Regions from separate parts of the Homo sapiens genome. Here all the other regions are linked to region 2. The links come from fine-mapping of genetic effects on gene expression. A gene starts in region 2. Each other region holds a variant in brackets. All regions are shown on one strand. Distances are between the middles of the regions.

Evidence for each region. PIP is the estimated chance that this variant, and not a neighbour inherited with it, causes the effect. A credible set is the group of variants that fine-mapping cannot tell apart.
Region 1: its variant is the best candidate, but not a certain one, in a credible set for the expression of GJA3 in whole blood (TOPMed, PIP 0.71).
Region 3: its variant is the best candidate, but not a certain one, in a credible set for the expression of GJA3 in whole blood (TOPMed, PIP 0.60).

What each region holds. Positions count from the first base shown.
Region 1 is chr13:20,118,909-20,122,935 of GRCh38, reverse strand. LOC105370101 (a long non-coding RNA gene) reads left to right here and starts at 3,147. Exons shown (of 3, transcript XR_941719.3): 1 at 3,147-3,231. The variant C/T (reference allele first, on the strand shown) is at 2,209.
Region 2 is chr13:20,159,421-20,163,420 of GRCh38, reverse strand. It overlaps GJA3 (gap junction protein alpha 3), which reads left to right and starts at 2,369. Exons shown (of 2, transcript NM_021954.4): 1 at 2,369-2,531. RefSeq lists silencers at 1,719-2,078, 2,309-2,388, 2,549-2,638.
Region 3 is chr13:20,124,738-20,128,737 of GRCh38, reverse strand. No RefSeq gene overlaps it. Among named protein-coding and RNA genes, the nearest start is that of LINC01072, 24 kb to the right of the region's middle. RefSeq lists a silencer at 394-613 and an enhancer at 1,064-1,113. The variant C/T (reference allele first, on the strand shown) is at 2,489.

The DNA.
Region 1 (4,027 bases), 40 kb after region 2:
CCAACCTGGGCGACAGAGGGAGGATCTGTCTCAAAAAAAAAAAAAAAAATTAAAGGCCTAAATGTAGAAGCTAAAACTGTAAAACTCTTAGAATAAAACAAGGGGAAAGCTTTATGACACTGGATTTAGCATCAGTGGTTTCCTGGCTACAACACCAAAAGCACAAACAACAAGAAAAATAGACAAATCAATCAAAAGTAAAAACTGTTGTGTATCGAAGGACATTATCAACAGAGGGCAGCCCACAGAATGAGAGAAAATGTTTGTAAATCATATATCTGATAAGGGTTTAATATTCAGACTATATAAGCAACTCAACAACAACAACAAACCCTCAACTACAAAAAACAAAAAACTCCTAAACTCAATGACAAAAAAATAAACAACCCAATTTTTGTTTTTTTGGTTTTTTTCTTTTTTGAGACTGAGTTTCACTCTTGTCACTGGGGCTGGAGTGCAGTGGCACAGTCTCGGCTCACTGCAACCTCTGCCTCCCAGGTTCAAGCAATTCTCGAGCCTCAGCCTCCCGAGTAGCTGGGATTACAGGCACGTGCCACCATGCCCAGCTAATTTTCATATTTTTAGTAGAGACGGAGTTTCACCATGTTGGTCAGGATGGTTTCGATCTCTTGACCTCGTGATTCCCCCACCCCAGCCTCCCAAAGTGCTGGGATTACAGGCGTCTGCCACCATGCCCTGCTAATTTTTGTAATTTTAGTAGAGACGGGGTTTCACCATGTTGGCCAGGCTGGTCTTGAACTCCTGACCTCAGGTGATCTGCCCACCTCGGCCTCCTAAAATGCTGGGATTACAGGCAGGAGCCACCACGCACAACCCAAACAACCCAATTTTAAAATGGGCAAAGGACATGAATAAACAGTTCTCCAAAGAATACATACAAATTGCTAATAAGCACCAAAGATGCTGAATGTCAGTAATCACTGGGGAAAGGGCAAATCGAAACCACAATAAGATACCACCTTGAGCCCATTAGGATGATAGGGTACATTTAGAGAAATATATTTGGTCTTTGTCCCTGGTTCCTAGCACAGAGCCGCTAAAGCCCTTAGAATTTCCTGAGTGATAGTAGTGTCTTTTGTTATTCATAATGAAGCACCTATTGATCACATCTGAGTTTATGCTACTGAGGTGACTTAGGGTGAACCCTTAGATAGCTTCAGGATGGGGTTGGTCACCGGAAAGACCAGGTAAGTAGGAGGTTGGATCCTTCAGCCTCACCCCTAGACCTGTGAGAAGGGGAGGGGACTAGAAATCAAGCTCTAAAAAAGCTCTTGAACAAGCAGGTTGGAAGAGTTTCCAAGTTGTGGGAATGTGGTGCACCTGCAGCCCCCACCTCATACCTTGCCCTGCGCGTCTCTTCCCTCCAGCTGTTCTATGTACTTGAGCTCAGTCAATGAACACAAATTCCCTACAGTATTGGTCTCTGACACCAAAGAACAACATTTTGACAAATTGAGTTTTAAAGATTTAATTGACTCTTATTAGCAATGTATGAAACAGGCAGCCTCCAGACTACAAAACAGAAGGCACTCGGCTGGGTGTTGCAGAACAATCGGCTTTGGTAAGGCAGCTCAAGCAGGAATGAGGAAATCGTGTGGTGAGAAAAGTGCATTGGTTATCATTGGGTGACTTTCTGAGGCGGAGAATAGGGTCTGGAGGCAGGGAACCTAAGGCCGATTTCACGCTGACTTCCTAGAACTAAATCAAAAGGAAAACCCCAACTTTTCACACCTAAGTAACAAAAAAACCGGAGGTAGCCGGGCATGGTGGCTCACGCCTGTAATCCCAGCACTTTGGGAGGTCGAGGTGGGCGGATCACCTGAGGTCAGGAGTTTCAGCCCAGCCTGGCCAACGTGGTGAAACCCCGTCTCCACTAAAAATACAAAAATTAGTCTGGCGTGTTGGCGGGCGCCTGTAACCCCAGCTACTCGGGAGACTGAGGCAGGAGAATCGCTTGAACCCGGGCGGCGTAGGTTGCAGTGAGCGGAGATCGCGCCGTTGCACTGTAGCCTGAGCGACAAGAGTGAAACTCCGTCTCAAAAAAGAAAAAACAAACAAAAAACCGGAGGCTACTCCCTTTGCAAACCCCCACCCTTTTCTGCCTGGCAGATGGAAAATTGAAAGTGTCTCTGAGGGCAGCCAATCAGACGTTTACATAGGATTGTAACTTTGTAACTTCACTTCAGC[C/T]TCTGATTGGTCGCTTCCCACAACCAATCAGCTTGATTGTGGGCCAAGTCTTCCTTTGCATAGAACTGTAACTTTGTAACTTCACTTTGCAAACAGAGGCTTGCATCGGGTGTAACCTTTGTAACTTCACCTCAGCCTCTGGTTGCAGGTCACTACTTCATTTACATAGAGTGTACACCAGGTAACCAATGGGAAACCTCTAGAAGGTATTTAAACCCCAGAAAATTCTGTAAAAAGAGCCCCTATGCTCCAGCGGCTCCCACCCTGTGGAGCGTACTTTCATTTTCGATAAATCTCTCCTTTTGTTGCTTCCTTCTTTCCTTGCTTTGTTTGTGCGTTTTGTTCAATTCTTTGCTCAAAACGCCAACAACCTGGACCCCTCCACATTTCCTTGTATGAGTTTAAGCGGAGGAAACCTCTCTTATGCAGGCTCAAGTGGACTGGCCCCCTTTTGACTGGTTGCTGGTAGTCTCCTATTTTTTCAGGAAAACTGGCCCTGGTGGGGGATTTTCCTGTTTTGTTTAAGTTTCAGTTTGATTACGTGGCACTTAGCACAAGTGATTCCATTTTGGTCTGGCCTACTGGGGCCTAGTGCAGGAGCTCAGCCCAATTCAATGGCCTCCCATAAATCTTATTTAACACTTAGCACCACTGTGCACATGTGGAAGGTAAAACTCAGAGACGCTAAGTATCTGAGTGTGTCACAGAGCTAGTAAAAGGCAGAGCTGGGATCAGATACATTGATTCATTCACTCAAAAACCTTTTTTTATCGAGTGCATACTATGTATCAGCCTCTGGGTACTGAGCATGGGAGCAGAATCAGACACCCCGAACTGACAGGGCTCACAGACGAGAAGGGGAGACAGTTCTCAATCATAGAAATCACTTGTTCTCACAAACGGTGACACGTGCTATGAAGAAAAAGGCCTGAGAACTAGGAGGGCATCTAGAGGCGCCCTTTCTGGTCTAGGCGTCCTACAGGCAGCTGGAGGAAGACGTCTGAGCTGACATCAGATTCATGGGTAGGAGTCTACCAGGCCAGGGGGGTGAGTGCCTTCCAGTGCACAGAAAAGCTGTCCGGTTCCCGAAAGTTTCTTTTTCTTTCTCTCTCTGTGTGTGTGTGTGTGTGTGTGTGTGTGTGTGTGTGTGTGTGTTTGGGGGTCGGGGCAGGGTCTTGCTCTGTTGCCCAGGCTGGAGTAAAGTGAAACAATCGGCTTCACTGCAGCCTCGACTCGGGCACAAGCAATCCTCCTGTTTCGGCCTCCAGAGTAGCTGGGGCCACAGGAGCGCCACCGCGCCCCGCCTGAAGGTTTCTTCTCTCCATACTGGTAAAATCCTGAGCTGTGTTTGAGCCTCTCACAGGAGGAAGGTAACGTGACCTCCTCCAGCTCACTCACGTGACACTCGGTCCTCCTTGCGAACGGCTCTCTAAGAAGCTGTGGGAGTGACGCGCAGCCCCATTCCTCCACCCTTCTTGTGCCGGGTGTCCCCCACAGAAAAAAATGCGCCGGCCCCAGAGCTGCCGCCGACTGTTAAGGAAGGCCCTTTGCACCCAAGAATGGAAGCGGTGTGGGTCGGGGTGAGGGCCCCGAAAAGGGTGGTGAAGGCCCTGGCAGAGAGAACACTCAACGTTCTCTGCCAGCTGCTTCCCTGCTGGTCCCGGGAGCCCCAGCCTCCCTTCCACAGGGGCGGGGGAGGACACGGGGCGGGGGCGACACGCGTGGGGGTGGGGCGGACGTGGGCGGAGACACATGGGGGAGGGGCAGGCACCTGAAAGGAGGCGACACCGGGAGGAGGGGCACCCCGCGGGGAAGGGGT
Region 2 (4,000 bases):
AATGTTATTAGAATATGGAAATGTGACATTCAGCACTAATCAGTTTGACATATGAATATATCTATACACATATTTCTCCCTGAAATTGGCCTAAATACTCTTTCTTGGAACCAAATGAGAAGCAAACAACCTTTACAACTAAACATTAAACCATAAGATGAACATCTTAGTTGTCTACCTAGAAATTGTACAGTATGACAAGTGTAAAGAAACTGCTAGCTTCTTAGTTGTGCTGGTCTTTACACAATACCACTTTAAAAATTGTTTTATGGTAGTAAAATATACATAACCTTTAATTTACCATTTAACCTTTCTTAATGTGTACAGTTCTGTGGCATTAAGTACATTCACATTGTTATGCAACCATTACCATCATCTGCTTCCAAAACTATTTCTATCTTCCCAAACTAAAACTCCGTACCTATGAAACTCTATCTTCCCGTTTCCCACTGCCCCAGCTGCTGGTAACCACACTTCTACTTTCCGTCTCTATGATTTTGACTGCTGTAGGTACCTCATGTAAATGGAATCATACAGTATTTGTGACTTTTGTGACTGGCTTATTTCATTTAGCATAATGTACTCAAGGTTCGTCCACGTTGTAGCATGTGATGGGGCTCTCCCTTTTTAAGGCTGAATAATATTCCACTGTAGGTATGCAATACATTTTGTTTATCCATTCATCCATTGATGGACACCTTTTGGCTATAGTAAATAATGCTTGTATGAACATATATGTAAAATATTTGTTCGAATTACATAATATAATTTAAAATCTATATTTTAATAAAAATTTTAAAATTATTACAATATTATATTTCCATTTTTATCCTCAGAATACCAATAATAGCATTTGGCAAACAGACTACAAATATTAACAATTCCTAGTGCTTTTGTGATCAACAAAAAAAAAAAAACTATTCCTGTGCTTCTCAGAGAAAATGTTTTAAATGAGAAAAATATTCAAGTATTTTAAGACCTTCAAAGGTAGCATTTTTCAATTAAAAATTAAAAACTAAGTCTCCGTAACTACTACCTACTCCATACATACACCGCAAAGTTCCCAAAGGGAGAAGATATTTTAGATGCGCCTTTAGGAGCTTAGTTTTTCCTCCTTGGGATAACTTTAAATTCAGATCTCAGCAGAACAAACGCATTTTTCAGGGCAAGCCAACTGCTAATCCGAGTAGATCTAAACGCTAACGAAGGCAGCCGACGGAAGCTGCTCCATGAAGACACGAAAACTATCAGACTTGCATTTTGCCACATTCCTGGAATAAACTTATTACTCATAAAGGTGATTTTGAAGCCATTTCAGCTTGTGGAATGATCACCGAAATGCAGTCCACCGATATTTGTTAATATCCCAGGCTGGTCAAACCCCACTCCAGACCTTGGGGGACGGGGAGGGGACCCGCGGCCTCTCTAGGCTGTGCCCAGACAGCAGACAAGGACGCGATGCCGCCCTCGGTCCGCGGCCTTCCGCGGTAGGCGTCCCTCTCAAGCGTGGTAAAACCACCCCGAAGGGAACAGAAAACGTTAAAATCTTCGTTGGGCGCCAGCAGGCAGGTTAGGCCTCGCCCTGGCATCTCGTCTCCAGGACCAGATGGAGCGAGTGACCCGCGGGGACACCTTCCCGGTCACCTCGAGCGCAATAAAACAAGTTCTTTTTTTAAAAATAAGCATCCGTGTGCCTGCCGGCTAAATTAAGTGTGTCTGAAGAGAAGCAGGATGGCGGCCGCTATTTATAACCTCCCGCCCCGCCCGGGCGCCACTCCTCGACAGCACCCACGCTGTGCCCGGCGGCGCTTCCGCGGGGACTTCCTGCTCGGTGGTCCCCGCCCCGCCCCGCGCCAGCCGTCCGGAACCCGCGTCCCCAGGCGGCTGCAGGCGGGCGAGACCTAGGTGCCCGACGCCCACGCGCCTCCGACCGTGGGAGCGCCCGGAGAGCAGCTACCTCGCCGGGCCTGCGAAGCCCAGGACAGGCGCGAGCGGGGCGCGGGCTGGCGCATCTGCGTGCGGTGGGCGCCCCGCAAGCGGGTCGGGCCCGCCCCAACAGCCCTCGGCTCTCCTCTCACGTCCCGCGCGGGCATGCCCCGGAGTGCGTAGGCGGCAGGGAAGAGCCCCCGCGTCCACATCCCCAGGGCCCGCGCAGGTGCGGGATGGGGATGCAGGCGCTAGGCATGGACGTGCGCGCGGGGTAGGGTGTGGAATGCGGACGCGGGCGAGTGCTGTGGCTGCGCGTACAGGGTAGGGATGCGGGGGCGGTAGGTGTGCGTGCTGGGAAGCGCGCGGGGCGGGGCTGTTCGGAGGCGGCGGGGGCGTGGCGCGGCGTCCTGAGCTGCAGCTTGGGGGCGTCGGGCGCAGCGCACACTGGGGCTGCAGGGATGGCGATCAGGGCGGGGAGGTCGGGCCCTGGCGCGGGGCGCACGCGTGAAGCAGCACCGCACGTGTGAAAGGAATTCTTTTCAGAGCGGCCGGGAGCCCTGCTCCGGAGGAACGCACCCGGGTCGCCGCCGCGGCAGAGCGGGGTAAGGCGGGCCGGGCGCCCCGGAGGCCAGGCACAGGGGCCGAGGGCAGCGCGGGGCGGGGACGGGCGGGTCGGCGGCGCAGCGGAGCTGCCGGGCGAGCCCAGCGGGCTGAGACTGCCGAGCTGGGAAGCCGAGCCCCGGCACGTGTGCGGCTCCCAGCCCCCTAGGATTCTTTCAGGATTCTTCAAAAAGTTGTGGGGAGCTCGGGAAATTTGTGAGAAACTTTTGGAATAATTGATCTTCCTCCTTTGCTCCTGGAGGTCTGGAGAGCAGCGCCTCGTTTGGCTTCCCTTGATGGACAGTCCAAGGCCGAGTTTAAGTTGTTTTCCTGGGGTTGTTTTCCCCCTCGGGTGGAGGAAGCCGGGCTGTCCCGGACCGTCAGGCTGTAGGGCTCCTAGCGATGCTGAAATGCTTGAAAACTCTAAGCAGATGTCACCGCGCCAGCTAACGGCGCGCACCCAGCCGTCCACGGGCATTCAGCATCGCCGTGCTCCTAAAAGTCCTGTTGGGATTGTTTAGAAACAAGGTTGGCTCGCCTACATTTTTTTCAGAAACTTTTTAAAACTTTTTATTTTTAAGAAACACTGTAGCTATTAATGCCACGACCAGATTTCTCGACCTGTATGTTTGTTATGATGTGTTCAACTATAAGGAATTTGCAGAGGAGTGGAAAAGCACTGTCCGAGCCCCTTCCCGTAGGAGACTTGAGAAAACAAACGGCAGTGACGCGGCTGCATTTGCTTTGTTGCCGACTCCACACTAGTGAGCAAAATTCATCCTACCATGTAGAGTTCTCGGTTCGTGAATATGTGACTGCAACTTTAGAACTCCAGTTTTTATTTTATCAAGATGTCTCCAAAACATGCCATTTAAAAATGATTCTATACAAACAGCTGACAAGCGAATTATGGGTCTCATCACCCAGGAATTAAAAACCATGGTGATTTATGATGTGCGCATCACTTCACTGGCGGTCCATCCATGTGCAAGACAAACATTAAAAGATTAAAGAGGAAAAAAGAGGGATTTATTTTCCGAATATCAGTGTGTTCAAAGTAAACATCAGCTAGTTTGGCACAGATTCCACCTGCTCAGCAGTTTGGTTCATATCGAGATAAGCATCTCATAAGGGCAATGCATGTGTTGCTGTAGTGGAAAGTAATTCACGAAACGGTACTACTCTAACAAATCAGACAGTACTGTTTCTTAACCAGGAACCGTTAACTGGCTGAAAGCTGTCTTAAAAGAATGGCGGGTAACAAAATTTTTTGCCAATAAGGAAAATATTTTTGACCCAGTTTTCTTGAATGTTACTCACATTTTAACTTATTATATTCATTTCTCTTAGCTAAAATAACGTGTACACACTACATTTGAAACGAAAAATTACGTTTATCGCAGCCTTTTTTTTTTTTTTTTTTTTTTTTTTTTTTGAGATGGAGTCTCGCTCTGTCACCCAGGCTGGAGTG
Region 3 (4,000 bases), 35 kb after region 2:
CCTCCAGCCTCTGCCCCCACGGTCGCCTCCTCTCCCTCTCCTACGAGGACACTTTGATGACATTTAGGGTCCGCCCGGATCATCCAGGACAATCTCCCTAACTCTGGACCCTTAGCCTGGCCACATCTGCAGAGCCCCGTGGGCGATAGAAAGTGATGTTTGCAGGGGCAGGGATCAGGGCCTGGGCACGGCAGCCCGCCACTGGGGGTGGGTATTCTGGGCTGGATGGCACTGTCACCCCCCGCCTTGAAAGTCTCGTCCTCCCCCACGCTTGGACTCGTGGCGCTGAGCAGAGACGCGGGCGCTCCTGGAATCGACGGGAAGCGCCCCGCTGACAGGCCTGCGGCGGGAGACCCGAGCCCCCAGCGCCACCCCAGGGCGGAGTCCCACCCACCCTGTCTACACAGAGATTCAGCTAAGAGCCTGCACTCGAGTCCAAAGTCAGGCCGCGTGAGAAGCCACGGCGGCCGCAGGGGCCCATGCGGTGAGGTCAGCGCCGGCCCCACAACCCGACCGCGGAACCCGGGCTCCCCCTCCGCCCGGGCCCTGGCCGGCCCCGCTGGCCCGCGGTGAGGAGACGGCCTTCTTGTGCCTGCGCGATTCAAACGCTGGAGCTACTCTAAACAAGGCCTGGCCACCCCGGACACGCCGAGGGAGCTGGCGGCGGTCAGGCTGAAGGAGAGGGGCCGTCACCGCCCCGCGGGAGGCCGCGGTCGCACACTGGCGGGCAGGGGACATGGGACACCCAGCTGCCGGGCAGCAAAGAGGGGCAAACTCGAGAGTGGGAAAGTAGGCGATGCTGACTTAGCGGCTGCGGGGGAGAACGGCCCAGCGGAGGGCGCCACGCCACGGCCGGTGCCGGGAAGCTCCTGTTCCGGGGCTGCTCTGTCGCCCGCCGGATGCGGACGCGCACGCTGGGCACCTCCCCTCGGCCACCAGACCTCACCTCACAGCTGACCTCACCCTCAGGGCCCCAGCATTGACCCTGAGGGACGCGCGGGCTGGCCCTGCTGCCCACTCGGGGTACGCCCCCGAGGGACACGCCCGCCTTCGCTCTCGCAGGGCAAGGTTGCTCAGCAACTTCCCCAGCCCCATGGACACCCGGGGCGGCATCCTGATGTTTCAGTTGGGAGGAACCAGAGAGAATCAAGACTTGGTCCAGGTCCTGCACATGGCTCACGCCTATAATCCCAGCACTTTGGGAGGCCGAAGTGTTAGGATCACTTGAGTGCAAAAGTTCAAGATCAGCCTGAGAAACACAGTGAGACCCCGCCTCCAAAACAAGTTTAAAAAAAAATTAGCCGGGCATGGTGATGCAACGCCTGTAGGTAGTCCCAACTACTAGTGAGGGTGAGGAGGGTGGGGGGTGTGGAGGCTGCAGTGAGCTATGATGGCGCCACTGCACTCCAGCCTGGGCAACAGAAGGAGACCCTGTCTAAAAAAAAAAAAAAAAAAAGAAAGAAAGAAAATAAATAAAAAATAAAAAAAGCTTTGGTCTGAAGGAAAAAACGTGGCCTAAAGACTTGCTTGAGGTCACACCAGGATGCAGAAAACATAAGCAGTGGCTCCGGGAAGGACTGTGGGTTAATAAGCACGGTTGGTAAATGGCAGACCCCCAGCTGAAGCCCAGGTCCTCAGATGCAAGCCCACAGCTCCTCCACTAAGCTGTGACTAACACTAGAGCCAAGGGAGCCGCAGGGGTACAGAAGCGATGCTTGCCATCAAGAAAGGAGGTTTGGGTGTGGTGAGAGGTAGAGGAGGGGGGTGAGAGGAGAGAAGGGAGGGGGTAGGGTCAGAAAGGCGGGTCGGCACCCCTACCTCCTCACTAACAGAGCAGGCAGAGCTCTCAGCCTGGGCATGGTGGGGCCCACTATGGTGAGATCCTGCTGAAAATACCCTGCGCTTTGAAAACAGCCGCATCCAGAAATCCAGGATCACTGGGAGGGGATTGCAGTCCAAAGAGATGACGCTGAGCAACGATGCTACCCACGTTTGTGTGAGCTGAGCACTTCCTAAAACTAGAGGCTCCGTTTCATAGTAGCCTACTGCTTCTCTAATTTTAGCTTACCCAAGAGTCACTTGGAGGCCTTGTTAAAAATAGATTCCTGGGGCCAGGCACAGTGGCTCACGCCTGTAACCCCAGCACTTTGGGAGGACGAGGCGGATGGATCATGTGAGGTCAGGAGTTTGAGACCAGCCTGGCTAACATGGTGAAACCCCATCTCTACTAAAAATACAAAAAAAAAAAAAAAAAATTAGCTGGGAGTAGTGGCAGGTGCCTGTAATCCCAGCTACATGGGAGGCTGAGGCAGGAGAATCACTTGAACCTGGGAGGCAGAGGTTGCAGTGAGCTGAGCTCGTGCCACTGCACTCCAGCCTGGGTAGCAGAGGGAGACTCCATCTCAAACAAACAAACAAACAAACAAAAATGACAGCCAATAATGTCCATTATTTACAAGGCAAAGACAGGCACGAATATACCTGCAAC[C/T]TAGATAATTCCCAAAGTTACTTAACTGCTTCCTTTTTAGGTGGTTGGTCGTCTGACATTTTTGGCAAGATGACCACAGAAATGAAGTGTGCCCTTCTCAGTGCATCACACCAAGGGGTGCATGATACCATAGTGACTTTGTTAAGCACACCTTGGCTGTTTGGTTACGGGGCATCTTCCCAGTTTCTCTACTATAAAGCTAACAACTTGGGGAAATACTCTGAGATTATGCAAAGCCTGTCTCCTCACAATTTCCCCCTGGGTTTTAGCATCCATCAGTTGCTCTTGCCCACAGCATTTTTCCTGGGGGCTTTGCCCACGGCTGCTTTTCTGTTGCTCTCTTTCCTTCTGTGTCTGCTCACCGGACCACTCCTTCTCAGCTGCCTCTGTCTCCATGTGGGCTCACTATGGGCTTGTAGACAACGAAATCCCAGGACTTTTACTGATAAAATATCTAACATTTGTAAATGCACAGTTTACAAACTGCTCTCACTTACACTATCTCATTTGATTTCCTCACATGAACAGCTGCCCAGAAAAGCCTCTGCATTCTGGGACCCCTGCAATGGGCATTTTTCATCCAGCCTCAGTGGAACATCCAACACTGTCCTCGCTGAATCATCTTGTTAATTGGGTGCCAGCCCAACTAGTTGAGTCATTTACTGTATTAACTTGGCGTCACTGGAAAATGAAGTACATGGACTTTCTCTGTCATTATTCAAGTCATTGGTAAAAATATTGAACAGGACAGAGCTAAAAACCTGTAAATTTTTATTTTCAATAACACTTTACTATTAACTGGACTACCCAAAGAGATAAAGAAAACGAGTAGTAGGGAGTTAATGAATTATCTTACATGTATTGTTTCTTAGAAATTCTGAAGTCTATATTTAGCCAGATCACATGCTCTGTGACTGACAATAAATTCCTAACAACGGCAGAATTGTTTGTCTTCAGTTACTTTCTCTGGCAACTGTACTGGCTACCATGTGATAAATGAAACAAAAATCTCTTTGAAAATATGCATATATCACTATCCTTCATATAGAAAATAAGTGCATTATCTTACAACATCAGAGCAATTGTAGCCTACTGTGTGCCTGGTGAACAGTAGGTGTTCAATAAATATGTGTTGAAGTAACAAATGAATGGATGAATGAACAAATGAGTGAATGACTGTAAAACATAGAAGGTAAGAGGTTTAAAAGCACAGGTTTGTTTTTTATTTCTTTTTTTTTTTTTTTTTTTTTTTTTTTTTTTTTTTTTTTGAGATGGAGTCTCACACTGTTGCCCAGGCTGCAGTGCAGTGGCGCAATCTCAGCTCACTGCAACCTCTGCCTCCCAGGTTCAAGCAATTCTCCTGCCTCAGCCTCCTGAGTAGCTCAGATTACAGGCACTCACCACCACACCTGGCTAATTTTTTGTATTTTAGTAGAAACAGGATTTCACCATTTTGGCCAGGCTGGCCTCAAACTCTTGACCTCGGGTGATCCACCTGCCTCAGCCTCCCAA